2 linked regions of the Homo sapiens genome follow. The protein of the gene in region 1 interacts with the protein of each later gene in a biochemical or structural test. Each region holds a gene or a part of one and is shown on either strand. Other genes may lie near its edges.

What was found.
Region 2: the proteins of ASXL1 (region 1) and RARB form a complex in vitro, tested with the Homo sapiens proteins (one study listed by IntAct).

The regions. Positions count from the first base shown.
Region 1 is NC_000020.11:32,350,403-32,366,755, forward strand, and holds the start of ASXL1 (polycomb group protein ASXL1), read left to right. Parts: upstream 1-7,928; 5' UTR 7,929-8,373; coding exon 8,374-8,430; intron 8,431-8,583; exon of another isoform or gene 8,584-8,611; coding exon of another isoform or gene 8,612-8,835; exon of another isoform or gene 8,836-8,905; coding exon of another isoform or gene 8,906-8,932; exon of another isoform or gene 8,933-9,449; intron 9,450-10,307; coding exon of another isoform or gene 10,308-10,404; intron 10,405-15,981; coding exon 15,982-16,064; intron 16,065-16,353.
Region 2 is NC_000003.12:25,560,145-25,575,949, forward strand, and holds part of RARB (retinoic acid receptor beta), read left to right. Parts: intron 1-9,613; coding exon 9,614-9,774; intron 9,775-15,805. UniProt on the Homo sapiens protein: Receptor for retinoic acid. Retinoic acid receptors bind as heterodimers to their target response elements in response to their ligands, all-trans or 9-cis retinoic acid, and regulate gene expression in various biological processes.

The sequences.
Region 1 (16,353 bases):
TCATTAATGTCAAGAGTGAATTAGATTTTTCATTATATGTTGAAGAACGCATTGAGTGGTATGGGAGGATGGACGGCTTAATGAATGTAGGAAATCAGGCAAAACCTTGCCAAAGAAATGACATTCAAGGAGACATCAAGGGTGACTCTGCAACCCTGTCTTGCTTTCCCTGCCCCAACTGCAGACCAGTCTTAGCACCCAGTTCTGCTTGAATGAATTCATTCAGAAAACGTTGACAAACACCTGTGTCAGGGCCTCTGCTGTTGGGTCTGGGGCCACAGGGTTGGGTAAGAGCCAATATATGAGCTCAGATCATAGCTCTATTGAGCTGGTTGTTACAGGAGGTGGTCAAGACTTTGCTTGGGATCTGCCCAGCCCACCTTTCTGGCTTTGTCTCCTGCTCCTGCCCCTCTGGACTGCTGGCCTGTCCCCAAGTGAACACACTTGCTCTTTCACACACAGACCCATGGAGACCACTCCCTATCATACTCACTGGCACTTCTACCCAGAATTCACCTGAGCCACCCTCTTTCCTTTGGGCTTTCAAGGCCCAGCTAAAGTATTAGCTCCTCTGTGAAGGCTGCCCTCTCGGAGTTTGTTGCTGCCTCCTTGTCCAAAAGGACCTAAGATAATAGGTTTTAATAATGTGTACAGTTATTTATTTCCATCTCTAAGATCCCATTAGACCAGGGGCCCTCGGAGTCAGTGAGCTTGTCTTTGTGTTTTTGCTGGGACCTAATACACAATGGGTCACTCAGGAATTGCAATTAAAATGGGTCCAGAGAAATGTGACCTGCAAGAATAAAGGGATAGGGCAACCCACTCTGGTCCCCTTCCACGCTGTGGAAGCTTTGTTCTTTCGCTCTTCACAATAAATCTTGCTGCTGCTCACTCTTAAAAAAAAAAAAAAAAGAATAAAGGGATAGAATGCAGAAGGAAGATGAAGATGTAAGGACAACTTAACTTAGAGCAGTGGTTCTGAACCCAGGCCTCCAGGAAGGCAGAACGGCAAAGGGGCAGAGGATGTGAGCTGTGTAGTTGAGGTAGTTGGGTTTGAATCCTGGCTCTGGCATCTATTAACTCCATAAACTGGGACATGTAGTTGTATTTCTTGGGGTTTCAAGAGGGGCCAGGAATACCTTGGAACACTATAGAGAATTTCATATAAATAGGTATAAGTTTTTCTGGAAAGAGAGTCCATTGCTTTTTAACAGGCTTCACAAAAGGTAAGCACCACTCAGAAGGGGAGACACTGTCTTTATTAGTTGTCAATTGCTGTGAAACGAATTACCTCAAAATCTAGTGACTTAAAACAATCAACATTTCGGCTGGGCACGGTGGCCCTCACCTGTAATCCCAGCATTTTGGGAGGCTGAAGTTAGGTGGATCATGAGGTCAGGAGTTCAAGACCAGCCTGGCCAACATGGTGAAACCCCACCTTTACTAAAAATACAAAAATTAGCTGGGCCCGATGGCAGGCACCTGTAATCCCAGCTACTTGGGAGGCTGAGGCAGGAGAATTGCCTGAACCCGGGTGGCAGAGGTTGCAGTGAGCTGAGATCACACCACTGCACTCCAGGCTGGGCGACAGAGTGAGAATCCATCTCAAAAAAATAAAAAACCAAAAACCAAAAACCAAAAAAAAAAAAAAAAACCACCACCACCACAACAACAAAAAATCAACATATCATGTCTCGCTGTTTCTGTGGGTCTGGAATCCAGCTTATGTGGATGATTCTGGCTTGGGGTCTTTCGTGAGGTTGTAGGCAAGATGTTGGCCAAGGCTGAAGTCATGTGAAAGTTTGTCTGGGGCTACTGTCGTATAGACCTCTCCAGAAAGCTGCTTGAGTGTCCTTATGACATGGTGGCTAGTTTCCCCCAGAGCATGTGACCTGGAACAAGGCAGAGCTGCAATGTTTTCTCTGACCTAGCCCCAGAAGCCACTTATGCTCATTTCCACAGTTACAGAGTTCAGCCCTAATCAAAGTGGGAGGGGACTAAAAAAGGATATGAATGTGAGGAGGTGGCCATTTCTAAGGCTACCACAGTGCCTTAGAAAGAACTTGGAATGAGGAGCTTGGGGTTTAAATGTTGACTCCAGCAACAACCAATTGTGCAATCTTGGGAAAGTGTCTTTTCTTTACTGGCCCACTTTTCTCATTCACCTCGTATGATGGTTTTGGAATTCAAGAGTTAAGTCCTGTGAAAAGCCATTTATATAAGCCCCCAACTTCACATTTAGTTATTAGAGGAAGAAAAGTCATTTAGGGTAGGGTGTAAGTTGATGTTTTTATTATAAATCATGGGAAACAAAGAAATAACCCATTCACCGCTCTCATCACTTGGGCACACCACCCGCTCAGCATTTTGATGTTAAAATACATTTTAAAGGTTCTTTTCCTTCTTTCACAGAGGAAATAATAGAGGAAATGGCTTAAACTGAGGCCAGAAGCATTATGGTGGATGTGAGTAAATCTCTGCATTATTAAGAGAGATTAAAAATTGGGATGGGTACCTTATTGAGGTCCTGAAATCTATACTTGAAAACCTTAAAGCATCAGAGAGCTGCCATTTTCCGTGATTTCGGTAAAAAGCAGCTCAGGTTATCCTTCCTTTGAGGCCATTCTAGGGGGTCCCACAAATCTTTTTAAGCAAAATAAAAATATTAATAATTATTAAAGTTGTTTTCACATTGTTGAGGTATATTGCATTAAGAATGGAATTTGTTTTTCCATCATAAAAGTAGCACATACTAATTCTAGGTTTTGAAAATACAAATATAAAAAAGAAAAAATATTACCCATAGCTACTACCTTAATCTAAATGTTCTATGTTTTGCGGTTGAAATGAAAAAGAATTTTTTTCAATTAAAAAGTGTAATATGGGCCGGGCGTGGTGGCTCATGCCTATAATCCCAGCACTTTGGGAGGCTGAGGCAGGCAGATCACTTGAAGTCTGGAGTTTGAGACCAGCCTGGCCAAACATGGAGAAACCCTGTCTCTACTAAAAATACAGAAATTAACCTGGTGTTGTGGCACATGCCTGTTATCCCACCAACTGAGGTAGGAAGATTGCTTGAACCTGGGAGGCAGAGGTTGCTATAAGCCAAGATCATGCCACTGCACTCCACCCTGGATGACAGAGCAAGACTTTATCTCAAAAACAAAAGGTAATATGTCCATGGCTCACAACTGTAATGCCAGCACTTTGGGAGGCCGAGGCAGGAGGATCACTTGAGGTTAGGAGTTCGAGACTATCCTGGGCAACATAGCGAGACCCTGTCTCTACAAAAAATTTAAAAAAAAAATTAGCTCGGGGTGGTGGGATGTGTCTGTGGCCCTACCTACTCCTAGCTACTCAGGAGTCTGAGGTGGGAGGATGGCTTAAGCCCAGGAGGTCAAGACTGCGGTGAGCCATGATCATGCTACTGCACTCCAGCCTGGGTGACAGAGTGAGACCTTGTCTCAAAAAAAAAAGACAATCAAAAGTTGCCATAGTCTGATGGTTACCCAGAGGTAACCATTATTGACATTTTGTTGCCAGGCACAGTGGCTCATGCCTGCAATCCCAGCACTTTGGGAGGCTGAGGTGGGAGAATTACTTGAGCCCAGGAGGTCAAGGCTACAATAAGCTGAGATTGCACCATTGCACTCCAGTGTAGGCAACAGAGAGACCCTGTCTCAAACAAACGAAAAAGACATTTTGGTAATTTAAACACGTTTTCCTCCCTACTGGGAGACTGAACAGCAGGATTTAAACGATGGTGAATGGAAGGTGAGCTATGAGTTAGGGCTGCCCATCACATGGGCAGATTCTGTGACTTAATGACAATAATAAGGTCATGAAGTCTCCTATACAGGGTCTTGCTCTGTCACCCAAGCTGGAGTGCAATGGCGCAACCATGGCTCACTGCAGCCTCAAACTCTTGGGCTCAAATGATCCTCCTGCCTCAGCCTCCTGAGTAGCTGGGACTATAGGCACATGCTGCCACGCCCAGCTGAAGTCATGCTCTCTATCCATGAGCATCTTTATAACTTGCATAGATATATTTGGGTGAAATCCTGTCTTGGTCTTTCCCGATTCTCCCTGAGCAGGTTCCAAACATTGTTTAGGGCTCAAAGGGAAATTAGTCTTCAGAGTTTCTCCAGTAAAGTAATTACGGAGATCGGGTCATTTATTCAACAGATTGGGTGCCTACCATGTGCCAAGACTGTGCCAGGCACTGGGGATATGATGATGAAACCAAAGATGCTAGCATGAACACAATCACTAAACCAAAGTCACACAAATAAATTAAATGTGGGAGGGACAAGGAGAGCTATACATGTACTGATCATCTGCTATGCTGGAAGTTTATTTAGCAAATGTAATCTTATTTAATCATCTGGACCCAAGGGAGGTAATCTGACCTCTCTGAATCTCAGCTTCATGTGAAAACGGGGATAATATTATTGAGAGAGAACATTTGTTACAGGGGCAAACCCTGTTCCAAGGTTTCTTTCACTCAAAGTATAAACAATGAGGCACTTTTTACACTTTAGACACTAAAACTTTTTGGAGGCAAAGAGGGCTGGTATTTAGTGAGTATCTGCTATGTGCTAGGCACTTTACAGAGATCTCATTTAATCTCAGTTCCATTCTTTGAATTTGCTATGTACCCTGCTGTCCAAATGACGGCACTGAGTCAGTGAGAGGTTTCATAACTTGCCCAAGGCCACAGAACTGGATGGAGAAAGACTGCAGAGATTCAAACCCAGGCCTGCTGACATGCAGAGCCAATGAGAATATATTATCTTGCAGTGCAGTTTATGGGATATATGTGTCCCTTTGGGAATTCCTGGGTGTCTGCTGGTGGCCTGTTAACTTGGTTCTTGAATATGCACTTTGCTTATAACTGTGCAGTTTGAAAAGTGACTCATCCCCAAACTAGGCAGGGTTGAGTGTCTGTCCTGTTTATCTTCCACATGCCACCTGCACTAACTTCTGAAGATAATCTATAATAAAAGCACTGTGATTAAAAAACAGAAAAACACACACCAAAAATGTATAGGTTTGTCTGTTGGTGCTTCTGACAAGAAAATAAACTCATGAATCTCATTAACTTTAAAAAAATCACATCTACTTAAGGTTTAATGACTAAAGCCAACTTTCTAACATATCTGTACCGTTCTCTGAACATACTGTTTTCACACTTAACTACGATGTTGTCACTTGTTTCTGTCTGATTCTGCAAGGGCAGAGACCTTGAAATATTCAAATCTGGATTCCCCCATGGTTTGACCCAGCTGAAGTCAGGCAGTGTTCGCTGAAAGAAATAAAGGTGTTTCCATAATGCCTGTATTAGCTTTCTTTTGGGGCTGTAAGAAGTTACCACAGATTTAGTGTCATAAAACAATATTCATTTCTGTTTCACGCTTCTTGTGGGCCCGACGTCTGGATTCCATGGCTCAGCTGATTCTCTGCTTCCAGTCTCACGAGGCTGAAATCAAGGTGTCTATATTCCTTTCTAGAGAGTTGGGGAGGGGGTATAATCTGTTCCCAAGTTCATTCAGCTTGTCAGAATTCAGCTCTGTGAGGTTGTAGGACTGAAGTCCCCATTTCCTTGCTGGCTCTTGGCAGGACTTCCTCTGAGCTTTTGGAGGCTGCCTGGATTCCCTGGCTTGTGGCCACTTTCAAAGCCAGTAACAGTGGGTTGAATTCCTCTCATACTTTGAATTTAATTCCTCTGCCTCATCTCTCCAAAACATCTCTTTTGCCTCCCTTTTGTGCTTTTAAGGGTTCATGTGATTACACTGGGCTCACCCATATAATACGGAATCATCTAATTTTAAGGGCTTTATTTCCATTGGCAAAATATCTTTTGCCAAAGAATGCTGGCTGGTAATCCCAGCACTTTGGGAGGCCGAGATGGGTGGATCACCTGAGGTCAGGAGTTCAAGACCAGCCTGGCCAACATGGAGAAACCCAGTCACTACTAAAGATACAAAAATTAGCTGGGCATGGTAGCGCATGCCTGTAATCTCAGCTACTTGGGAGGCTGAGGCAGGAGGATCGCATGAACCCAGGAGGCGGAGGTTGCAGTTAGCCAAGATCACGCCACTGCACTCCAGCCTGGGTAACACAGCGAGACTCTGTCTCAAAAAATAAATAAATAAATAAATAAAAAAGCAACATATTCACAGGTTCCAGGGACTAGGACTTGGACAGTTTTGGGCAAGCGGGGAAGACATTATTCTGTCTACCACAGTACCTGTATTAAACATGTAAATTTCAGTTATTCCCTGTAGGTCAGAGGGCAGTAAAGCTACTTCAGAAGACATCGGAAAGAAGCCAAATGACTTGCCAAAGAGTACTGTATCAGCCGTAGATTGAAAAAAAAGAAGTTAAAAATCCTTTGTAAAAAATCAAGGCAAACAGTTTTTTGAGGGACAGTAGTTCCTCCTTTCTCTCAGGGTAAAGCTAGAGAGATTTTTAAGAGGTGTCTTATTCTAACTTGCAGTCTTTTCCCTTTGTAGGATTTTGCTTACCGGACTCACAAGTTTTCTGTGACCAGTATTAGAAGCAGAAAACACTGAACCCCTTGGCGTTAGAGTTTGGGCTACACCATAATGGTCTCCTATCAATACTGGCTCTCGCTACGTGTTAACATTAGGGAGTGGAGAGTGTGTTTCCTCACCCAGGGAAACCGTTTAAATGTGGCCACTGATCCTGCCTTCATAGTTTTTAAGAGCTGGCATCAATCCAACTCCGGACGGACTCTAGAAATGTTTCTGGACAACGACTGAACCTATAGTTACAGAAAACCTATGTGCTGGGCGCTCTGAATTTCATTTCAGGTTCTAAAACTAAGGCTCAGAGAGGCTAAGTATATTGCCTATTGTTTCTCAGCTGGTAATAACAGCTACCATTTATTAAACATTTGCTCTATGCCAGGCGCCATATCATACGGACCTGATAATGTCAAGATCTCCCTTCACATCCTCTTCCAATCTGTCAAGAATTGTATGTTAATTTTAATTCCAATAATGCCATGAAATACAAGACAAATGCAGATCAGAAAACTGAGGCTCAGAGAGGTTGAGTGGACAGCCAGGGAGTGACTCAGCCAAGATTCCAGTCTAGGTCCGCTGGACTCCAGGGCCTGAATTCTCTCCAGGGTACTGCCTCTAAAAACGCCCTCAGGTGCATTCTGGTCAGTATGGCCCCAGAGTCCAAGTTCTTTACACGACCCGTCAACATATCACCAAGTTCCTAAGAACGCTCTAGGCTGCTGGTGCAGGCTCTGCAAATACACAGCGGCCTGAAAGCACAGGAAGAAATGAAGAACCGTCTAAGTCCATCAGCCGTGGAATAACCGTTTTACTGGTATGAGGGTCTTTTTGTCTCATTATTATGTGGCAGTGAGTCATTTAGAGGTGACCAAAAGGGAAAGTCCTGCCTCTCGTCCCCTACGAGAAGTGTAGGTAAGAACCGTTTAGGCGAGGAGAAGCACGAAGTGGGAACTGCGAGTCGAGCTCCCCATCCTCACTCCCCACCCGCACCCGCCAGGAGGTCCTGAAGCAAAAAGCACCGAAGGGGTTAAGGGTGGCCGGGGGAGCCCAGCCACCGCCCCTTCCCAGCATCGCCTCCCAGAATCCCGCAGGCCCCCAGCCAGTTCTCGCACCTCGCGAGACTCCACCCAGCCCCTTCCCCGAACAGCGACCCGTCCCCGTTCCTAGCTGAGGTCGGTGCTAGGCGGAGGACGCGAGAGGGAGAGCGGAAGGGGGCCGCCGGGCACGCCGGGAAGTGTGGTCCACGCGCTTCACGCGGCCATATTCTTCCGGAGCGGGGGAGGCCAGAGAGGCCGTTGGGACTACGACTCCCAGGCGCCCTTTCGGTTTGTTTTTGTTCAAAAAAAAAAAACCCCACACTCCCCCTCCTCACTCTTCACACACACTCACACACACCCACGGCAGACACGCACGCACCCGGGCGCCGAAGGGAAAGCCGCGTCTCGCCCTCCCGCCCCGCCGTCGGTCCTGTCTCAGTCCCTCAGCAGAGCGGGAAAGCGGAGGCCGGAGCCGTGACCTCTGACCCCGTGGTTATGCGGAGCCGCCGCATTCCTTAGCGATCGCGGGGCAGCCGCCGCTGCCGCCGTGGGCGACTGACGCAGCGCGGGCGCGTGGAGCCGCCGCCGCCCCTCCCCCACCGCCGCTCTCGCGCCAGCCGGTCCCCGCGTGCCCGCCCCTTCTCCCCGGCCGCACCCGAGACCTCGCGCGCCGCCGCTGCCACGCGCCCCCCCCACCGCCGCCGCCGCCCCAGCCCCGCGCCACCGCCCCAGCCCGCCCAGCCCGGAGGTCCCGCGTGGAGCTGCCGCCGCCGCCGGGGAGAAGGATGAAGGACAAACAGAAGAAGAAGAAGGAGCGCACGTGGGCCGAGGCCGCGCGCCTGGTGAGGCGGACAGCCGAGGGGGGCTCCGTGGGGCCCGGGGTGGGGGGGGCTCGCCGCGCACCCCCCCACTGGGGGGGGAGGGGCAAGGCCCTGCCCACCGCGGGAGGGGGCGGGGCCATCTTCCTTTAAGAACGGGACAGCCCCGCAAGGCGAGGGGTGGGGAGCGCTCCGCCGGGATGGGATGTGGCGCCTTTTTCCGCTCGCCCTCGCGCCCCCCCCGCCCCGCGCAGCTAAATTCCGGCGGAGGGGCGAGCTGGCAGGCCGGCTCCTCCCACTCTGGGCAGCGGGGTCCCGCGTCCCCTCCCCCACTATTTGGCAGCGTCTGGGGGTCTGGGGCAGCTTCGTTCATTCACCCGGGGGAGTTGGGTTTCCGGGAAGGGTCGGAAGCTCCTCCCTCGCTTCCTGGTGGGTAATGGGGTGGTGCCTTTGACTCCGGGGGTGGAAAAGCGACCCCACATTCAAGGACGCCAATGGCATGTTGAGCTTTCCCAATCTAAACCAGGTGCGTGGAGGGAAGCAAGTGCTTACTCCCAGCTTGAACCCTGAGCAGCGGTTCTCTAACTTTAGTGTCCTGTGGGCGACACCTGGGAGGCGGTTAGGAACGCTACTCCTAGGGCCCTTCGTAAGACCTGCTGAGCCTCAGGGTCTGGGATAGAGCCTGGGAATCTGCGCTTTCACCAGCTTCCCAGGTGATTCAAACGCAGTGGCTCACGGACCCCACTTTGAGAAACGCAGACTGGGCTGTTTGCCTTCAGAAGCTGGACTGGAAATTGGTATTTTGAGGAGAACTGAATCCACTTTGCAAAGAATGTATGTTGGACAAAGACAAAGTATCTCTGTTGGGAGACGTTGTTCACTGAGGATTTAGCAAGGGAGAGCGTAACTTGAGTGTTTGAAGCCGTCTCGTTCAACCGATGGGGGTTGTGAATTTTGTGTTCAGAGCGTCAGAGGACTTGCAGGTGAAATAGCTTCCTTTTGGATTACTCCCACAAAGCTCAGACACTTTGAGACATATTCGGGTAATTATCTGCTGATACCAGTAGTAACAGGTTATACTAAGATGTCAGTTCCTAAGATCTGTCACACAGCGAGGTTGTGGTGCGGATAGCATAAGTGTCTCTTGACACTGTAGTTTATATGTAATGGTTGTAATTCAGTTTTAATGATGAGTGAAGCTCAGACTTAATTTTCTCTCTTATTTTGAAGTGAGTTTTCTGCTTCAAAGGTGTTGTGCAAAAAAAAAAAAAATAGACTGTATTGGGGGGGTTGACACAAACCTGAAGTACACCTTTTTCTTTCTCGAAGTCTGTAAAAGTTACAGATTTATAAAAACTGAAGGAATTTGGGCTACAGAATTTTCATTGGTGCTTGCTATCCTCTTCCCTAGTCATTTGTTGCCCAGGGAACAAAAATAGCAATTGTTTGTATGCTGAAGTTTTGTGCTTCAGTTTATTTTGGCCTGGCATGTGAAGTTTGAAGATTTTGAGGTTCCGAAATATTTTTTTTCTGATTGAGTCAAAATTGGAAGCTTGGGCTAGTTTTCAGGATCTTGTAGAAATTTCAGGATTTCTCTAACGGTTCTGCACCTGGAAACAAATATAGGCCTGATGGGGAGTGGGAGAGAGCTCTCGTTCTCCTCCTCGACAATGAGTTTTGTGTGTTCATTGACATTCTCCTTGGCGTTCCTGTTATGCGGGTGTTTATGACCCTGGGCACCCAAGGAAATTTGCTTGCCAGAGTTTTACTTGTTAGAGGTAGGTGAAAGTACTTTTAAGTCTTGTGTTATTTATGTCTTGACAGAATTATGAAATCTGTTTGTCTCAAAGTTCTGTTGGCTCTTACTAGTTGACTTTAGGAATTTGGGGTCCACTGTTAAGTCTCTTTAGATTCTCGAATTTACCGTGGTCTGAACTTCAACATCGAGGTTGCTATTTCTGTTTTATCATTGACTCAACTTCAAGCCAGGTTATCAGGGTAAGTTATTCCTCTTTTTCTTCTAAGGCTCTTCATTAAAAATAGTAATATGAATAGGAATTACTTTGTTTGTTTGTTTTTCGTTTGTTTGCCACCACACCCGGCTAATTTTTTATTTTTAGTAAAGATGGGGTTTTTCCATGCTGGTCAGGCTGGTCTCGAACTCGTGACCTTAGGTTATCCGCCCACCTTGGCCTCCCAAAGTGCTGGGATTACAGGCGTGAGCCACCGCGCCCAGCCTATGAGTAGGAATTACTTTGTGGTGCTGTTATACATGTGAAAAAGGATTTGCGAGACTTTGGGAGTCTGAGGTGGAATAATCACTTGAGGCTAGGAATTCGAGATGAGCCTGGGCAACATAGACCCGGTCTCTACAACAACAGCAACAAAATGAGCTGGGCATGGTGGTACACACCTGTGGTCCTAGCTACTCAGGAGGCTGAGGATAGCTTAGGCCGAGGAGTTGGAGGCTGCAGTGCCCAATGATTGATTGTACCACTGCACTCCAGCCTGGGTGATAGAGGGAGACCCTGACTCTAAAAAAATAATGAGGCTGGGCGCTGTGGCTCACGCCTGTAATCCCAGCACTTTGGGACGCCGAGGTGGGTGGATCACAGGGTCAGGAGTTCTAGACCAGCTTGGCCAACAAGGTAAAACCCAGTCTCTACTAAAAATACAAAAATTAGCCGGGTGTGGTGGTGCACGCCTGTAATCCCAGCTACTGAGGGGGCTGAGACAGGAGAATCACTTGAACTTGGGAGGTGGAGGTTGCAGAGAGCCAAGGCCATGCCACTGTCCAGCCTGGGTGACAGAGCAAGACTCGTCTCAAAAAAAAAAAAAAAAGAAAAAAAGAAAAAGGACTTGTTGAGAATGTGATATGCAATTTGAGTATCTTGTGTGTGTTTTTTGTTTTAGAATTTTCCATTTCTTTGAATGGGACTGGATGGTAGGTGAGGGGGAACTTTTTAAGAGTCCCAGGCCGGGCACGGTGGCTCACGCCTGTAATCCCAGCTCTTTGGGAGGCCGAGGCAGACGGATCACCTGAGGCCAGAAGTTCGAGACCAGCCTGGCCAACATGGTGAAACCCCGTCTCTACTAAAAATACAAAAATTAGCCAGGCATGGTGATGGTGCATGCCTGTAACCTCAGCTACTCGGGAGGCTGAGGCAGGAGAATCACTTGAACTCGGGAGGTGGAGGTTGCAGTGAACCCAGATCACACCACTGCACTCCAGCGGCGACAGTGAGACTCTGTCTCAAAAACAAAACAAAAGAAAAAACCAGTCCTCTTAATGTTTAAAAAAAGTTGCTGTAACACTGTACTGGAGAATTTGTGAGAGCGTACACTGGACTGAGAGAAACTTGACTAGGAGGGAACGTAGGACAGTTGATTAGAACACCTGAACACTTCTCTTTGGGCAGGTGAATTTGGAGTGCTTGCAATGGCAATTGTATGCACTTCCATGGGAACGCTTTCAGATTGCTCCTGACCCCACTCAGATTGGTGACTAGAGTGTTACTGGGAATCCTTTTAAAAATTGTTTTTGTAGGCTGTGCGCGGTGGCTCACGCCTGTAATCCCAGCACTTTGGGAGGCCGAGGCGGGCGGATCACGAGGTCAGGAGATCGAGACCATCCTGGCTAACACGGTGAAACCCCATCTCTACTAAAAATACAAAAAATTAGCCAGGCGTGGTGGCGAGTGCCTGTAGTCCCAGCTACTCGGGAGGCTGAGGCCGGAGAATGGCGTGAACGCGGGAGGCGGAGCTTGCAGTGAGCCGAGATCGAGCTACTGCACTCCATCCAGCCTGGGCGACAGAGCAAGACTCTGTCTCAAAAACAAACAAACAAAACAACAACAACAAAAAAACCTTTCGTAGAGGAAAGAAGATTCTTAAGAATTTCAGTATAGTGTACCCCAGGAGATTGATTTTTGCAGATGTTAATTATGCTGTTGAAAAATAGTCTTTCTTTCACACATTTTGTAGTATTGTCTTTTCTAGGTGTAAGAAGTAGACCTTATGTGGTTGAGTGGATATAAATCCTCCAACTTGTTATAAACAGTTTGTTTGGGAGAAATAGCCAAGGGGATTTCCCTTTAAATCGAGGACGCTAAATGGATTCTCCCTGGCTTCGAGAAACTCTTTGTTGTATGCTTTATCTTTTACTTTGATTCATGACTGACCAGTTCTTACATCAAACATTTTTTTCCCCTTTGAAGTAAGAGAAGAGATACTTAAAAAAAAAAATGTAGTCTAGAAAGAGACTAGGAATAGAACACTGCTGACTTGTTCTTATACCAAGAGCTGGAGGCATAAACAGTTTTAATAAAAAAGAATACTTTGTATCTTTTGATGTAACTTCCCTTTAGAGATTCTGTTTCCCCTGTCTTAAATTCTCAGGCTATTTCTGATTGCTGTTTAAATAATTGGTAGTTACTATTTGAGTCATGCTTCTTAAAAAAAAAAGATATAAAAATTCGCCAGCTCAGCTTTCATTTAATTAGTATCAAAGAAATGTTATCTGTGGCAGTGAACATTAGTAGCTTGTTCCAGGGTTTATTGTAGGTTTGTTCAAGTCAGTACTGCCCATCTTGGCACTTAGGTTCTTGGAATACAGAGGTGGATAAGGTTTGCCCCTCAGGGCTTATGGTCTTCTGGGGATGAAGAAGGTCCAGACGCAGGAACAGAATTTTACTACAGTCATGATACGTGTTATCATAGTTGTATAAATCATAAACAGATATCCCAGTTGCTGCCTCTTGTCTAGTCATAGTTTCTCCTTTCACTCTCAACTGTCCTGGTTTGGAAGATAATTGTATGTGTTATGAAACAATGGGAACATTGAAAAGAGACATTTACCTCTGCCTGGCAGAGATCAGGGAAGGCTTCCTGGAGGAAGGTGCTTTCTGAGCTGAATCTTGAAGGGTAACTAGGAGTTAGGCCAATCACAGAGGGCATAAGCAGGAGCTGGTGACAACACATAGCAGGAGAGAAAGAGTCAGAGTGGGTGAGAGGGAGTGTGTGTATTTGCAACGTGTGGGAATTAGGTATATCTACAAATTATTGGAACATAAAGTTTGTAGAGTGTCACTGTGGATGGGTAGAGAGGCAGAGACCAGATTGTGAGGGTTCCATATGCCAGGCCAGTGAGCACCTACTCTGTGCCAGACATTGTAGGCATTACTTACATTGTCTCTAATCTGTCCAACAACTCGAGAGGAAGACATCAGTATCCTTCAAAAGAGAACCTAGGTTCAGGTTGGGTTGTAATTGCCCCAGTTTAGAATGTAAAAATTTGAATCTAACTCTAGATCCTGTTCTTTACCGGTGGGCCAGTGGACTTTGGAAGCTTCAGCTTTTGCAGTATGTGATTAAGGAGCTGTTGAAGGATTTTATTTGCTTTCTATTATTATTATTACTATTTTTTGAGACAGGGTCTCACTCTGTCACCCTGGCTGAAGTGCAGTGGTGCCATCACAGCTCACTGCAGCTTCCACTTCCTGGGCTCAGATGATTCTCCCACCTCAGCCTCCTGTGTAGCTGGGATTACGGGCATGAGCCACCATGCCCATCTAGTTTTTTGTATTTTTTTGTAGAGACAGGGTTTCACCATGTCGCCCAGGCTGGTTTTGAACTCCTAGGCTCAAGCAATCTGCCCACCTTGGCCTCCCAAAGTGCTGGGATTACAGGTGTGACCCACTTTACCCAGCCATATATATTTTTTAAATTCTTTAAAGAGATGAGGTTTCACTGTGTTACCCAGGCTGGAGTGCAGTGGCTATACACAGGCACGATCATAGTGCACTAGAGCCTGGAGCTCCTGAGCGCAGCAAGTGACCCTCCTGCCTCAGTCTCAGCTGAGACTATAGGTGTGCACCACCGTGCCTGGCCTGTTGAAGGATTTTAGAGCTGAAAGTGATGAGGGCAGGTTTGCTTTGCTGGGTTGACCTCAGTCTATAACATGTAAGTTCTACCAGAGCAGGGATTTGGTCTTGTTTACTGTGAATCCCTAGAATTGTGTCTGGCACAAGGTACGTGTTCCATGTGTTTGTTGAATGAAGGATGACAACAGAGTCAGAATGGATTTGAGGAAAGCAGGACTGGATGGAGGGATAAATATTAAGAGGCTGTTGTGTTGGGTCAGGTAAGAGACTGGTTTTGGGACTTGGCGGACAGATGAGCGAGAAAGATGACACCTGCGTTTCTGAATTAGGTGATTATACAGGCTGTCAATCAAGGTAGGGAATACAGGAAGAAGAGTGGGTCTGGAGAAGAGGTGAATTAGAGTTGCCAATTAGATGAATTAAGAGTAGAGCTGAATTAGAGTAGATAATGAAGGGGTATAGTCAGTACACAACTGAATATTTGAATCTGAAATTTGGGGGAGAAGTCAGAGCTAGAGGTAGAGATTAGGTAGTTATCAGAATTTAGGTAGTAGCTGAAACTGAGATGATAATGTTACCCATGGAGAATGGAAAATCTGAAAAGAGAAGCAAAGAATAGGACCATGGGAAATAGGGGTTTTATTTTAGTACCTTCTCCAAACCTTGACTTTGGTGCTGAGGTCTTATGTTCTTCCATAGAGAGTACCTTCCGCAGCAGACCTATCAGACGAGATCGGGCACATTCAGGGTGGTATGGCTGTAGACAGCAGCATCGTATCAGACTTCTTTATGTTTTGCTTGTGACAGCAGTACTTGGCTATGGCAGTTAAATGGACTGTAAGATGTTAGCTTGATTTGGAGTACCCTGAGTAGCTGCACAGGTAGACAAAGTACAAAGATATTGACAGCTTTTTTCTTCCTTTAGAAGAATAACATATCTAAAACAACTCTTAAAGCAAGAGAGCTGCAGTTGCACACTAAGAAAATACTGCAATACTGCCATGACTTGGTTATAGGTGATGCTAACATAAATGGGATATTCTGTTTCTCATTGCACCAGTCATGCAGAATCATAGCATCATGTGCCAGATGGCAGAACGTACTGTGGCAGTTAACACCACAAATTAACAACACAGTGGCAGAAAGCACCGTTTAAAAATATGGGTACTTGGCCAGGCGTGGTGGCTCACTTCTATAATCCCAGCACTTTAGGAGGCTGAGGCGGGCAGATCACCTGAGGTCAGGAGTTCGAGACTAGCTCTAGTCTCTACTAAAATACAAAAATTAGTGTGTGTGTGTATATATATATACTAATCAAACTTCCTTGGGAAAGAAAATGTGAATGCATTTCTGTGTCATACATTTCTTGTGCAGCACTATATATTCTGTGGTTTAGCAGTATTAACAGCATCAAGCTGAACAGTAACCAGTGTTGCTAAGGTCTCGCATACTATACCATGTATGCTGAGAAGATATGCATCCTTAGAATTGAGAATTAGAACATTTCAGTTAATTGCAGTAACTTTTCAGTAACTAGATATATGTGTAATTTGATTTCTGAAGTAATTTTAACTGTGGAAAAACTAAGTTGTCACCAGCGGTACCTCATAGCATAACTTTAGCCCATGATATATGGATGGATGGATATAAATGGAAATTGCACACTGAAATTAGGACGTTTATATTTCTTCAGGTATTAGAAAACTACTCGGATGCTCCAATGACACCAAAACAGATTCTGCAGGTCATAGAGGCAGAAGGACTAAAGGAAATGAGGTTTGTATTGTTCTTGTTGCTTAACATGAGGGTTTCATAGGATATGTGTCTTTCTGTAGTTGTAGTGATATGAGTAAGTACACCTGTGTATGTATTTGTGCTTCTGTGTCTGGTAGTGAGATGGAACTATCCATTTCCCAAATTGTGTGTCGTCTCAGTGGAGGGTGGCAGTGGGTGAACATCCATTTGTTTTCATTTAGAGGTGCAGTGGCTTTCCCCATCTCCTTGTTCTTCCTTAAATCTTGGCATAGAGCTTGTTTTTTGTGTAAGGAGTCAGGGCACATTTTCT
Region 2 (15,805 bases), on another chromosome or scaffold:
GATTTATATGTGGTGATTCTGAAGATCCTTAGAAACTTTAGCATTTCCAGGACCTCATTAAGAATCACTTAGGGGTATATAGACTGGCGTAAACCATTTGAAATGCTGTAAAGTGAGGTTTTTCATTTAAACTAACTATGTGATATAAACACCTATATCTACATGTAGACCATTTCTCTAATGATTTGGATTTCTAAAATTGACAACATGAAAGAGCTTCTCTACATTAATATCTTAACGGTATTTGGCAAACATCTGGCAAAATTATAAGCCATTTGTCTATCTCTCTCAGATGTCTTATTGACATGTGGATGGCTCAGGCAGAAATCCATCACGTATATTAAGCAATCTCAGAAAACGTTGAATCCCAAGGACATGAGCGTGGCCATAAATGTTCACTAAGCCAAGTTCAGACAGACAGTCCTAACATTAGAGGTGAACCCACTGGAAGCTTAATAACTGACAGTTTCCATACTCTGTCTTCCCTTTAATCTCTAGTTATAGAGCACCAGGCTGGAATGCTGGTCTCATCTTGGATAAAAATTCTTTCCTCCCTCCCTCATTTTTTCCTTCCTTGGTTTCTTTCTACCTTCCTTCCTCCACTGCTGCCTTAGCATTTCACATCTCAAAGCTTTTGTGTATATTAAATCCTTATATTCTATATTATATATCATGTGCATTTCATTTATTGAAGGGAGAACCCCTCATGCTTTATTTGACTCTGTTTCTTTAGTGGCTACAGGACTCAATAAATGTTTGGTGAATAAACAAATTGGTATAGGGCTCCCACTATTTTTGTTCATGTTACATTGTGTTGCAATCATGTATATATCTAAATATATATGAGATCCTGTGTGCAATGAACAAAAACTGATGTCCTCATTTTTCAGATAAGGAAACTGAGGCTCAGAGACATTAAGAGACTATCCTGAGCTTACATAGTTAGTACAATAAATGACGAGCTAAAATGCAGGCCTTTGAAATTTTATCCCAGGGTCCTTCCATTTGTCCATTGTTTCTTTCATATTATTTAAGACCTATGGGGAACAGTGCCATAATTTCTGTGTGTTGTAACAGATGTGGGTGGGATCTTTGAGTGGTAGGAATGACCAATTGTTTTCTTTCTTGCCTCAAATGCTGAATAGAGGGAACCATGTATTCAAATATCCTGTAGCATAAAAGGCATTTGGGCACGTGTTACTGTTGCATAAAAACACTCTTTACACAGACTGTATTACACAGATTATTGCTGTGTAACAAACTACCCCCAAGCTCAGTGGCTTAAAACTATAAGCTTTTGTTACTGTTCACAGCACCATGGATCAGTCGGGTTGTACTTCTGGGTTCACTGGGCTCTCTACTGGGTAGGCAACTCTGCTGATCTTACCTGTGCTCTTTCCGAGGTTCAAGCTGGCTCCAGATTGATCTAGTGTGGTCTTGGCTGGAACAACTGGGCTGTCCTCTTTATGGTCTCTTGGGACTTCTGCTTCTCTTTTCCTAAGCTGAGAAAAACTTCATTTCTATTTTACATAACATTTTAAGAGGAAATGTATGATGAAAATGTCAAGCAGAACTTCAGTTCATTTGCTAAAAATGTATTGGCTTTTAAAAGACAGTAGAAATGAAAGATCCGGCCATTATATTTTATCATGATAGAGACTGTTATTTAATATTTGAAAGCCCATAACTTGTTATAAAGAATATACATGACACAGAGCAAGATACAAGCTTATCTGGAACAGTCTGTTGCTGGGAAATTTCTTTTTTGCCCTCCTGCCCTTCATCAGATTCTGTTTTTGAAAGGCAGTCTATGCCTATTCCATGAAAGAAATATAAAGGAGTGTGCTTGTATCCCTGCTCAACTTTTTTACCCTGCTCAACTTTTTTACCCTAGATATATGGGACCCCTATTTGAAGACTATTGATTCCTGAACCTTAGACTGTCAGCCTTTTTTCAAAAAAGTTAAAAGACCCACTCACAGTGTTTCAGATACACGAGGGCAGCTTGGGCTTCAGCAGAAGTGAACTTGAGTTTGGCACAGCGAAGAATTTCCTGCCTATGAAAATTGATTATGGAAGAGATACTAAGCCTTTTTTTTTTTTCTAGATCAGAGGTTTTTTAAAAACAAGGTGAATTGATCATACAGTAAGTGTGTGAGTTTATTCCTGGTTAAAAAGCAGAGGGCCAGCCACAGTGTCTTTAATTTCCTTTTTTTAACATTCAGTTTTATGCCATAAATAAAAGGCTTCATCTCAGCTCTTATTCATATTGGGTAGCTCTGTCACAAACACGAAGCCACAGACACGTGTGCCTCTTTGGACAGGATTTAGGCAAAGTAATCATTGAGAATAGCCCATTGCTGCCAGAGGAAATGTACAAAGAAGCACCGCCGGGTATGAAGGAAAGCATCTCAGGGGTTCATGTCATCCCTCAACTACTCACTGTTGAGTTCCTACTTTTATACATTAAGCCAGAACATTTTCTTTTTTCTCATTTCTGGAATTGAACTTAGGATATTTCTTATAGCTCATATGTCCAAAGAAAAGGATTTTTCATCTAAAACTAAATCTCTTGCCTTGCAAGGACGCGCACCACACCGTGCTTGTCTGAAAATGAATGCGACCACAGTAGGGCTGCCCTTACCAGCCCAGACAGAGGAGGGAAAAAGTATTTGAAAGACTGTCCACACAAGAAGAGGTAAAATCTGCATATCAAAAAGTAACCAGTGAGGGAAATATGATTAAATTTGTTTTGAAAGTTTCATTAGCATAACATACCACTTTAACCACAAAGAAGTATTTGACGTCTGTATATTCTGATATTTCAGAGATTTTCTATAACTTCTTTGAATAATTTTAAGAAGCTGAGCTAAGCTGGAAGATCATATTAAACTCTCAGAATGCTGTGTCCAGACTAATTTCCCCCAAGACTTCAATATTCTGTAAAAATTCTAAGCATGCTCCTTGCTCAATTGCTGGCACAATGGACACCAGGTCATCTCTTAGACTTCGAGGTTGTAGGGGCCTCCTGTCACCTTTTGAAGTACTTGCACATATGCTACATGTTGCAGACTCAGAGCAGTCCTCTTAGGATTCCATTTTGACCTCCATTTTACAAACCCTGAAATCAAAGTCCCTGGAAATGGAATAACTTGATTCATTCAACACATACTCTTCGGCACCCTACCCTCAGCCTGGTCCAAAAGGCACATGTCTCATGAGTGGCAAGAAAACTTAGCTGCAGCCTCATTCACTGACCTTTTTTCTCTGTATATTTGTTCCAATTTCAACTGGAATTCACATGGCAGGCACTTTATTAGGAAAAAGACACAGTCCCCACCTTCAGGCAGATTCTGATGTAGAAGAAATGTTTACTCACCCCAACTCTCCCCAGTTTACAGTGGGACGTGCTATGTTAAATGCTTGAATTAAATCCTTAGGTTGTGGGAAAAGTAAGTCTCTAACAATTAGTAATAGATCCACCTGCCTTCAGATCCATGGTAGCTCGTTTACATGATGAGATTAGAAAATGATTTTTTAACTAAAATTAAAGCATGTTTTAATGTTTTTCTTTTAAATATATCAGTGTGTTAGTTACAGGTCATCCCCAACTCATGACAACCCCATAGTTCTAATCACCAACTGTAACTCATTATTCTTGCAGTTAGCAAGGAGCTGAAGAGTCAAGATGAACAAATTCCAGACTTTAATTTTCAAGCAAGAATAAATAGACCATCATGCTTCCTTTGCTAAGCTGAATATAGAGAACTTTATGGACAAAAATACCATCAATTGTATTTTCCTTTTTTTTTTTTTTTTTGATGTGAAAGGATTTTTAGTGAAGCATTGTTTTCATCTCTTCCTGAATCCAAGTGAATCTACATCTTTTGCATGTTTCCTGCATTAAATTTTTATTGTGTGCCTGAAAATCAATATTCCAGATACATGCACAAGTGCACACATTAAAATGAACATGACTTCATTTATTTCCATGATTAGACATTCAAATAAAAGTGCTTGGGTGTCTGTTTTCATATTCATAGGTCGAGATCCGTACATCAGAGGTATTTGTATAAGTGACACTTTTATTACATTCATTTCATTTGCAATATGATAGTGGATCATAAATATGTTACTTTTATGCCACCAAATCTGATTTGTAGCACTTAGCCCCTCACAAGGAGAATACTTGATATTTTATGGAGCACCTTTCATCCAAGAAGCGCTTTGCAAACATCAGGCCGGGTTCTATCAGGTGTATAAATCACATCTGTGACCCCCTGAATGCCCCACCTGCTTCATCAACCTTCTGGCTACTACTGTAGGGGTGGAGAGCAGTTAGTGATTCCCCCGCAGACCCCAACATGATAGTGAGACCTTTAAGTTCTGGAAGAAAGAGGCTCAGGTGAACTCTGTATTGCCACATATAGGCCCTGACAGTGGACAGAACACCACATTTAGTTATATGTCTACCTTATCATTTGCAAAACAGTTTTGAGGCCCCCATCTGTGGGTCGGATCTTGTATTAAGCCCTGGGGACATAGAGACAAGTAACATGTGGCCCTTGCCTTTCAGATATTCACAGACTTGGAGGGGAGGGCTTTGATGCAGGCTTGACAGTGTTTGCTCCTCTCTTTGCCTCTCCATTCCCTCCCAGAGGTGCACCGTACCTGAAAGCAGCTTGTCAAACTCCCAGGTCTGGCATAGGTATATGAGTGCATATACCAGTCAGTCGCAATCAGAGTGAAAGAAGAGGTCCACCATCAAACATCCCAGGCAGCCTTGGAGCTGAGCATCAGATGCACACCCCACGCTCCCAGAGAAGAGAGTCATCTCCCCACCCACCATCCCATAGCATCCCTCAATTTACCCTCCCAATTCCCCAGCGTTAGCTTCCTAATCTAGGACCAGTAGGATCCCCCTGCCACACCCAGTAATACACAGGCACAGCTCCCTGTAGCATCCTTCATTGTACTCACTACGCTGTGGACTGTGTGTACATGGGGTAGACTCAGACGCAGCGGAGCACAGTGGGTTTCCTAAGTTCTGATCCTGACTGTATCACTCACAGGATGCATGGCCTCAGGCAGGGTACTCACCTTCCTGTGCCTCCACTTTCTCATCTGCAAAATGGGTATAATAGTGATATCTACTCTATTAGGTTGTTGTAAGGATTGAATGGCCTACCATGAATAGAAGGCTTTATGATAGTTGTAATGAACACTTTCAGTATTGTGGTAAATAATACTCTCGTATATTAATTGCAGTACATGTAATAATAGTGATGCCAATATTCTATTATTATTATTATTACTGTCACTGTTTTATTGTATGATGAATGTCTGTCTGCTACCATAAGTTTTTGCTCCATGGTAGCAACAACCATCCTGTTTTGCGATGGCACATAGTAGATACTCAATAAATATTCATTGAATGAATGAATGAACAAAACAATGAAGGAACAAATGAATCCACCCACTCATTTGGTGCCACTGCGATGGCTTCTCCAAGCACCATTTTTCATATCAGTCTCCTCTGCCACTGACAGCCACAGGCCCCACAGTAATCCCCACAAGTCCTTGGTGTTTAGGTCATCCATTTCCCCCACGGAAGGGCCTTACATTCTTCCTGCATAACTAACCCACATAGGCCTTTACAGTAGTCTACCTCCTTCCCACCAAGCCCACCATCTGTGTGTCTCCATGCAGGTGCTACTGCCATCTCGGGGGAGGCTCTGAAAGGAGCTGTCTCCTCTGGAGTTGACCCCAGGTGGTAAGTGGTGGAGCTAGCACTAGTTCCAGATCTCCTGACTTCCCCTGCAGTACTTGTATCGCCCTTGCCTCCCACTGCTGGCCTCCAGGGGAACGAGTCCCTGCACTGCCCCAGGAGCCACTGACCACGAGGCCTCAAAGGGACCAATAGTCCCAAGAACTTGGACAAAGCTACCATCCCTAGGCCCCCGTGGCTTCTTGTGCACTGTGTCACCTCCATGATTCTGGTGGTTCTTGGCAGCCCTTCTCAAACACTGCGTCTGCGTTCTTCTAGAGTTTAAAACCATTGAGGGAAGCAGCTGCTGAAGCCACGTGTTTAGAAAATTTGTCCGTCAACTTATGAAGCTGTATGTAATTGGGGCATCATCACCAGAGGGGTTGTCCCTGCATTTTGTGGGTGTGGAAGAATTTGTGATAATCCCAGGAGTCCTTTATTCACATAGACAGTGGTGGTGGGACTTCACGTAGGGGACAAAAGGAGTGTGGAAAGTAGCCTGAGGTTACACACTGCTCCCCTTCGAGTGAGCTGCAAAGGCTGCTCCAAATTGGGCCCAAAGCACAGAAAATGGTGCTCTGGCTTCACAGTTGTGATTTTGCAAACGGCGTGTGTGATCACTGCACAACCCAACAGAGATGCCCAACTTGGTGCCCAGCTGCAGCTCACCCAGGGCCCCTTCCCACAGGACCTCACCCCTCCCTTTCTTGCTTGGTTCAGTTACTTCATGGTGACAGCTCACAGTGTCTCCTCTCTCCTGGTAACCCTCTAGAGCTGGGTTTGCTCGTCTGAGTTTTCCAGGCCCCTGGTGGTGGATGGGGACAGTGAAGCAGAATGCTTAGGAGCAGACACAGGTCCTGCAGACTTCCCTGTGGATGGGATTATGGGGACTCCTTCTGTGGGTTGTTAGTTTGTTTTGTGGTTTCTCTTTCTGCACATTGGGTTGACTATTTTCAAACATGGTATTGTTGGGCCTCAAGTTCCTTGAGTGTAGAAATGGGGTCATAAGGCCCACCTCACCTGGCTTACTGTGGGGATTTCGCGAGCTAGGATTCTTCACCTGCTGATGCCCAGTGGCCCTTGCCACACAATCACTAAAGGGTAGTGAGGCTGCTGCTGTGTTTTAATGTAGCTGTAGGTGTCATCTCAGCTTCAGAATCGACTCAAACAGTTCCTGGTATTTAGCGATGTGTCACCTCCCACAGGGCTCTGGGTTTTTTGTTGGTGTTGTTTTGTGATATAATTCACGTAGCATAACATTCATCATTTTAAACTGTACCATTCAGCGGTGCGTAGTGGATCCACTAAGTTGTGCAGCCTTCACCAGTAAGTCCAGAACATTTTCATCTCCTAAAAAACAAAACCCTGAACCCGTTAGCACTCCCGATCCTCCCTCCCCACCAACTTGCCCCCGTACCTGACAGCCACGAGTCTACTTTTTGTCTTTGGATTGGCCTGTTCTGGACATCCATATAATTTAGAATCACACAATGTGTGGCCTTTTGCGACTGGCTTCTTTAAGGCGTATGTGTGAAAGCTTCATCTGTGTTGTAGTATGCATCCATAATTCATTCCTTTCTATGACAAATAATATTCCACCATAAGGACGTCCTAGATTCCACTTCCCCGTCATCGGGTGATGAACATTTGGGTTCTTTCCACTTTTCAACTGCCGTGAGTCACACTGTCATGAACATTCATGGACAAGTTTTGCATAGACACATATTTTCAGTTCTCTTGGGTGTACACCTAGGAGAGGAATTGCTGCGTCACATGGTACCTCTGCGTATAACTTTGAGAAAAACTGCCGAGTACTCTTCCTCGGGGCTCTGTTTCAGAAGGACCCTCCCTGCTTAGATTTGACTTTTTCACTAGCTAAGGAAGGCCATTGGCAGAGGCCGAGGAAAAGAGGGGGGTCTGATCACCTGAGATCCTGCGCACTCACACACAAGCCTTCAGGCATTCCCTCCCCTCAGCAGCCCAGACTCCATCCTCACGGAGAGCCACCATGCCGCCTCTGCCACCCTGCATGACCCCTTTCCCCCTCATTGTGTCTCCTTTGCCCGCCGGCTTCTTTGCATTCTCTCTGCTTTGAACCATGATACCCACTCTCACCCAGCGTCCTGCGCCGGCTGGGAGGGATCGGGTCACAGAGGTCTCGAGGGGCCAGTCTGCACTGGGAAAGAATACAGCTGAGGCTGCACTTCCCACTCATTTCACCAGTGATCTAGAAATTTTCTGAGCCAATGAGCAGTGTCATTTCAGAGTCCTGGGGGAAGGAAACTGTCTAGAAGGGTGTTCTCTTCAGACCTGTTGGTTTCCTTAGGAATAAGTAAGTGAGTCCAAGTGAGGAAGGAACTTCTCAACCACGTGAACTTGAGCATATTTCTTAGCTTCTCCAAGACTCAGTTTCTTCATCTGTAAAATGGGTTTAAACTTGCCTACCTGATAAAAGGATCAAGTGAGATACCGTGATACCATGTTCAAGGGACTCAAAAAAATGTTCCTGGTCTCCCCAGCTGCCCTCCCTCCTGGTTAGGTAGGAGTGGCTCGTACAGACACTGACTTTGTAGTAGGACTCACCTCCCTTTTTTCCTTTCTTCCCCCTTCTCACCCCTTGCTCTTTCCTTTCACCACTTCCTCTCTCCTCCTGCTATTGTCTTACTCTGCCCTCAGCTCCTACCCCAAATATGGGTATTCTCATGGTGTGGACCCAGGGAACTGCCAGTTCTCAAATCACCCGTGTGCTCTTAGGGAGGCAACTCAGGCCAGATCCTCTTAGGGCAGATCAGATTATGCCCTGGGTCATTTTGCAGTGCAGATTCCCAGGTCACAGTGGTGGCATGCACAGCCAGGCAGCATCCAGCCTGGCACCCGCTGGGCCCCAGAGAACATGGACTCCCTGGAGGGGGTGGCATGGTCTGTTTCGCCTGTCTGCCTCCCTGGGTTTCAGTTTCTTTCCTCGCGAGATCCTAGCCAGGGGCTAGAGCTTTGAGTTACACTCGGATTTGAAGTCATCCCAGAGGTCTGTGCTGCAGGAGGAAGCACGGGCTTCCATAGCACTGTGTCCTGGGCCCTGACTTTGTGCCTGGCACCGTGCTTGGCTCGGAGCATGCAGAGGGAAAGGACACACACCTGCTGTGGGTCCAGTGTTCCAGACACAACGTGGAGTCAAGTGGCTACCAGCGAATAAGGGAATGAATGGTTTTCCAGGCTGAAGATTTCATACTGTATCAATTATTATTTTTAAGTAATTTTATATTCCAAAACAGATAATATGGTTCATACAGAAAGTTTAGAAAGCAGAAAAACACGAAGGGACAAAAACCATCATCCTTATCTCCTCTCAGATGAGTTTCTTCAAAAGTGCCTGTCACTTAATTCAGAAAACTAAAAAGCAAAGACACCAAAATGTGTAGCTAGGAAATACTAATTATGAAGTAACGGGGCTTTGTTCAGAGACCTGACCCTTCCCTTACAATGTCACTCAGGGCATCCCATTTGAGGGTAAAGCTCTTGGAAAAATCCTTCTCTCTTCAAGAGATCCAGTCCACAGAAAAAGTTCTCTCACAACAAGCCAAGACTCTGAGCCTCCTGGGTGAGCCCAAGCTCTCCAAACAACTGACGGGCACATGCATATACAGAAAGACAAACCTAGCTCTCTGCCGGGGTCCCGCGGCTGCCAAATCCCTTTTCCAGGGAGGTGTGTTATTACCACCTCTTCCCACTGTTTCTGTCCCAAATATCAAATGAGCTTAAGGCAGCCTTGGGAGGTGGAACCTCCCAGCTCAGGAGCACAGGCCCAGCCTTCAGCGACCCCTGATGTGCCTTCTCTCTCGTTTCCAGCTGTCAGGAATGACAGGAACAAGAAAAAGAAGGAGACTTCGAAGCAAGAATGCACAGAGAGCTATGAAATGACAGCTGAGTTGGACGATCTCACAGAGAAGATCCGAAAAGCTCACCAGGAAACTTTCCCTTCACTCTGCCAGCTGGGTAAATACACCACGGTAAGAGATACTCCTGCCCCAGGCTGCTGGGAGTGTGGAAACCTTGTACGTGCATGTGTGCAGACACACACACACACACACACACACACACACACACACACACTTTGCACTGGGCCTGGCAGGGGCTTGCATGCTAGCCAGCTGGGGCTATGTAGTAGCCACTTCTTTCTGTGAGGTAGCCTTTGGGCGTGGGCAATCAGTGAGTAGGCTGAGTGCCGCCTCACTGCAGTCATGCACACATGCATTCACTCTAGATGCATTAACTGAGTATTTGCTATACGACAGGCTGTGTTCTAAGCCCTGGCAACATGAACTATTCAGTGCTGCTCTCAGAGACTTTGATCTGGTGAAGGAAACAAGTAAAGCCAGTGAAGCGTTACATGGGTCATGACGGACCTCTGTACGGAGGGACCCAGGGGGACGGGGCCTGATCTTTTAAAAACCCCAATCCATCTGTGAAATCCAACCAAGATAAAGAGGCCATCCCCTGGGCCAAGGTTTGCCTTCTGTGAGAGGACATGTACAAAACCCCCAAGCCAGGGCCTAGAAAAGTTTGGGGTAGGCATGCCCCATGCCCAGTTGAGTGAATGTTCCCCCTCTGCTTCCCAGCGTTCCACTAGGAATGGCCTTTCACTGAGATTGGAAATAAAGAGAGGCAGGAAAAAGAGAAGTGAGATAAAAAGGTAGGAGGTGTATGTTGGCTGGTCTAGGTTGTGCCAGTGGAGGGGTCATGAGGTGCTTTAATTTTTCCAAGTGGTTTTTGCATGTATTATGTTCACTGATGTATATTTCTAACTTGTGGCATGTAATAGACACTCAGTAGATATTTGATGAATTAATACAACTAGAATGTTGTTCTGGCCTCTTTAAAAAGCTTAGGTTGCTCACCTACAATGCTATGGTAAACATACTTTAAAAACAAAATCCAAATATTGTAGCACTTGCTGGCTTGGTGAATGGTGTTCTAGAAAAATGATAGCATGGGAGGTCCTGAAGATCAAAAGACAAAATAGTGATACCAGAAAGAAAAAAAAAAAACAGTGAGCGGCGGGGCTTTGGAGCAGTTCTTGGTGAGCATGGGGTGTAGTGCGCTAGGATGTTGGTGGTATCTGTAACACAATAATGGTGACCAGGAGCAGGCCCAGAGGGGCGCCCATGGAATCTGGGGCCAGCACAAACCTAGGTGGCTTCTCAGATGAAAATGAGACTACACAGTTGGGTGGCACCAGCTTCTGAAGGGCTGGCACCCACCTTAAACAGACAAGTCTCCTGGCTGAGCTCAGAGACTTTGGCTCACCTGGAAGCAGAGGTAGAACCTTGAGCAGTACTTTTCAAAACTCAGCGTGCATCTGAAGCACCTGGTGAACTCGTTACAGTGCAGGTTCTGGTGCAGCAGGCATGGCCTAGGGGCATTTCTAACAAGCTGCCAGGCTGCTTATGCTGCTGGTCTGCAGACCAGACTCTGAAGAGCAAATGAGCCGGGCTTTGAGAAGCAACACCCAGGGTGGCACTCTGGGGTCCACCTCGCCCATTGGTGTCAGCCAGGAGAAACACTGGCATGTCTGCCAGGCCGAGGGAGAGTCTCGGCTTAACCTCAACCAGTCTTCACTGAGTTTGGGGAACACTGTCCCATCCCAGAGCAGGGACACAGGCCAGGACAAGACTGGACACTGTAAGGGAGCTTTCATTTTCACCTGGGAGAGAAAGTGGAATGTGACCCCATGTATCCAGAACAGAGGCCTGGAACCACACGAATGTACTTCAAGTCCTACTCAGCCACCATCAGCCCCATGACGGTGAACAAATTACCTAACGTCTCTCAGCCTCAGTTTTCCCATCTCTAAATGGGAATAATGTGAAATAGTTGGGAGGATGAAATGAGACAATTTATGAAAAGCTGCTGTGATGGAACCCAAAAATATCTACCCAGCAGTGGAGTGGCAGAAACATCATCCAGACACGTACCTTCTACTGGATACTAACTGACCCTCCAGAGACCTGGCCCCCATGCTGGGTGCATCTGACAATACAGAAAAGTAACATGATGAATAACCAATACCTGAAAGTATGCCATTTATTTCTTTTAGAAATACTTACTAATTGCCAACCATTCAGTGGCATTTCAGGCCCTGTATTGAGCTGTGTATCAAGGTGAGGGCGTCTTGACCTAAGAAATGAGGGAACTCAGGCTGGCACAGTGGGAAGGGGCGAAAAGAGAAGATGAGAGAAAACAGGTGCTGTGCAATGGTGGACTGTGTTGAGTTGAGAGCAAGTGGGAAGTGAGAATGGGAAAAGCCTGGCGGAGTCTTGAGTGCCACTTGAGGAGTCTGTAAATAATGAACAGTAATTGATGGTTGTGGTCAAAAATCTTTATTATTATCATTGTAATCATTATTACATCTCATATTTATTGAGCATTTACTATGTACTAGGGACCATGCTAAGTACTATAAGTATACTAATTCTTTTATTCCTTATGAGGACTCTGTGATTTGGGTTTCGTTGCCCTCATATTACAGATGCAAAAGCCAGGTACAGAAAGGCTCGATAACTTTCCCCTTGTCTCTTAGTCAACAAGTGGTCAGAGGTGAGACTTGAACCTAAACAGTCTGACTCCAGGGCAGCTCTTTTAACCAGTATACTATACACAGAATCCCTTGAGAGGGTTGCCAAAAAGGGAGAATGGAAGCTGGGGCCATTGGCGGCATCTAGCTAGGAGGAGAGAGCTGTGACCCAGGAATAAATCAATCTTGTAGCTCCAAGAAAGTCAGAGGAAAAGAGATGAGAGTGGGGAGGTCTTCCTGAAAGAGGAGACTTTTGATCCAGGTCATGAGGTGAGCGACTTTATATGGCAATACCTAGGGCCAGTAACTGCTACATCAGGGTCCCCCTCCGCCTCCTCCAGGTGGTATCTTAGCATAGCCAAGTCAATCCCCAGACCCTGACTCACCTAGTAATCAGGTGAAACAGCTCCCACTCTAACCTGGAGGAGGGCAGGACAAACACAACGTACAGCATTTGCCGCTCCTGGAACATGCGCCCTGGTGTGACCGGGATTCCTACAGGATGGCTCACATGTGAGGCATTGCCACTCCTGCGAGCGGTCCCTCACCACTGATGAGCAGAACGTGGAGAGATAAACCCCCCCAGCTTCCTTATTCGTTGGGCAGGATACTCTTAGGTATCCTCTAAACCACGTCCCAGAGTTTCCCAACTAGATCGAGCTCTGACTGCCCACAGTGATGATCTCCGCTGGCCGCCTTCCTTCCCTGCCCACTCTGTTCTTCCAGTGCTTCCTGGGATCTCCTCCCACATAAACTATCGTGCATTCCAATTCTAGTCTCAGCCTCGGCTTCTGGCCTAAGAGAGAGAGGCTTCCCTGCAGGCCTCCAGGGCCCTTTCCTATCCACCCCAATATGGGGGTGAGTCACCCCCAGTCCTCAACTGGGGCCCACCCTCCTAAACACATTGTGGAGACTTCTTGTACCTCCCAGTCAGGCAGAAAAACAGAAACACGATTTTATCTCTAGAGCGTGGCCCTTCACTACTGGGCATCCTTCCGGAGGCCTGCTGCCCACCGCGGGGTGGAGGGCGCTCTGAGCCAGTCTCGCAGCTGACCGTGCTCTTCATTTGTACTATCTCTCCCCAGATCTAGCTGTGTTTTTATTGTGAGCCACTTAAAATCCTTTCTGGAAGTCGGTGGTATAAATAAATAACAGCAGCCATAACACATTCTCTGCAAGCTCTTAGTTCGGAGTTGAGCATTTTTAAAAAGAGCTTTTTTTAGACAGGCAGTTGCTTCCACGGCAGGAAACTTCCTGTCATCTTCACCAGAGTGGCATCCCTGTCAGATGCCTTTGGAATTAGTGGGCAGAGAGGAATAAGAAAGGCAGCCAACTGCGCATCTACAGATCTTTGAAAGAGTAGTTCCTTTTTCTTCCCTAATTAGGGTGGATTTGGGACAAATGGTTGGGTCCCCGGAGACCGCAGGAATGGCTGGAAGAGGCAGAAACATATCCCCACCACCCCCACCTCAGGCCAGGGCAGGGCACTCACCCACAATCTTCAGAGCTAGTATCCCTGGGAAGGTTTCTACCCAATGACCCTCCGCCGCCATAAAAGGAGAGAGGGTGGATTCCCTGTGGAAAGGTGGAAAGCAGGAGAGAAGCTATTTATAGATGAGCTTTCCAAAATAGAATCAGGACTGAACCAGAGGTAACATCCTCGCTCTGAGGACGTGTTCTCCGCTTCCTTAGGGTGAACCCTAGTGAGTATCATTTGGGCTTTAGGGCCTCATAAATTCAAGCTCAACTCTTATCCCTGCTACTTAGGAGTCATGTGACTTTGGAAAGTTACATCATCATTTGCACCTCAGCTCCTTCATCTGTATAATGGGAGTTTTAAAAACATCCACCTCCTGCCTGGAGGGTTCCATGAGAAAAATATATGGAGCGCCTTGCACAGTTTCCGGCACAGAGGAGTCGTGCCGAATGTGCAGCTCTCCTCCTCTCCACCCCATCATAAATGTCTTGTCATTTTTTCGAGCCACATGCCCAGGTTCTGTAAACTAGCGTGGGTGTGACAGTGGGACAGATTTCCAGGTGGTGTAGCCCCCACCCCCAGCTCGTGCTGTCTGCTCCGGGCCGCCTCTGCTCCCGGCCTCCCACTGCTCTGCCGTGTGCGGGCCGCTCATCACCAGGTGGGGCCTGGCGGGAGGTAAGCTGTCCTCCGAGGGGCTTGTGAATATGAACTATGAAGATTTAAGAAGCCCTTAACCTGCTCAGAAAAATGACCACAAACAGAATTATTAACCACGAAAGACTTTCCAGGAGACATACCATAGAAAAGGAAGGCTGTTTTGAGCACTTGTCATGGGTGGACTCGGTGCGCTTTTTGGAAACTAACATTTGCCATCAACCAGAGGAGCAGAACCTGGAACTCGGGGAGCTCGGGCTGCCAGGAGAGATGCATCAGGAGGGATAGAAGGTCAGTGGGGGCCACGAAACCCGAGTTCCAGTCCCCACTGTCACCTCACAGCTGTCTGACTTTGAGCCAGTTGTTAACTTAGTGAGCCTCAGTTTCTTGCTAGTAAACACACCTGTGCTGCCAGTATCACCCAGCAGCGGTCCCCAACCTTCTTGGCACCAGGGACCAGTTTCATGGAAGAGAATTTTTCCATAGATGCTGGGCTTGGGGATAGTTTCAGGATGAAACTCATGAAGGACAACTTAGATCCCTCGCATGCGCACTTTGCAGTAGGGTTCATGTTCCTATGAGAATGTAATGCCGCCGCTGATCTGAAGGAGGTGGAGTTCTGGCGATAACGCTCGCTCCTGGCCACTCACCTCCTGCCGTGCGGCCCAGTTCCTAGCAGGACACCGACCAGTACCCATCCACGACCCAGGGCTTGGGGACCCCTGACCTAGACCATTCTTTCATGTTGCAACAAACAATGACTGCATACCTACTGTGTTAGTTTCCTAGGGCTGCTGGAACAAAATAATACAAACTGGGTGGCTTGAGACAACATTATTTGATCGCATTTCTGGAAGCTAGAAGTCCAAAATCAAGGTGTGTGCATGGCCACGCTGTCTCTGACAGCTCTGGGAGAGAGCCCTTTCTTGCCTCTTGTAGCTTCTGGCGTGGAAGGCAGTGCTTGTAGTTGCATGACACCAATCCTCCGTCTTCTCATGGTCATCTTCTCCCTGTGTTTCTTCACATCGTCTTCTCTCTATGCATGTCAACCTCTGTCCAGATTTCCACATTTTTTTTTATAAGGGCACCAAGTCATACTGGATTAGGGCCCACCCTAATTACCTCATTTTAACTTGATTACCCCTATAAAGACACTATTTTCAAATAGCGTCACATTCTGACATACTCGGGCTAGGATTTCAACACATCTTTTTGAGGAACACAGTTTAACCCGTAACAAACAGTAACACCTAGTGAGTGCAGAACTGGAGTGCATGGATGTTACCTTTCCATGCTTGCCGCTCTCTGCAAAGTCTAGCTGGAGATCAAATTTTGT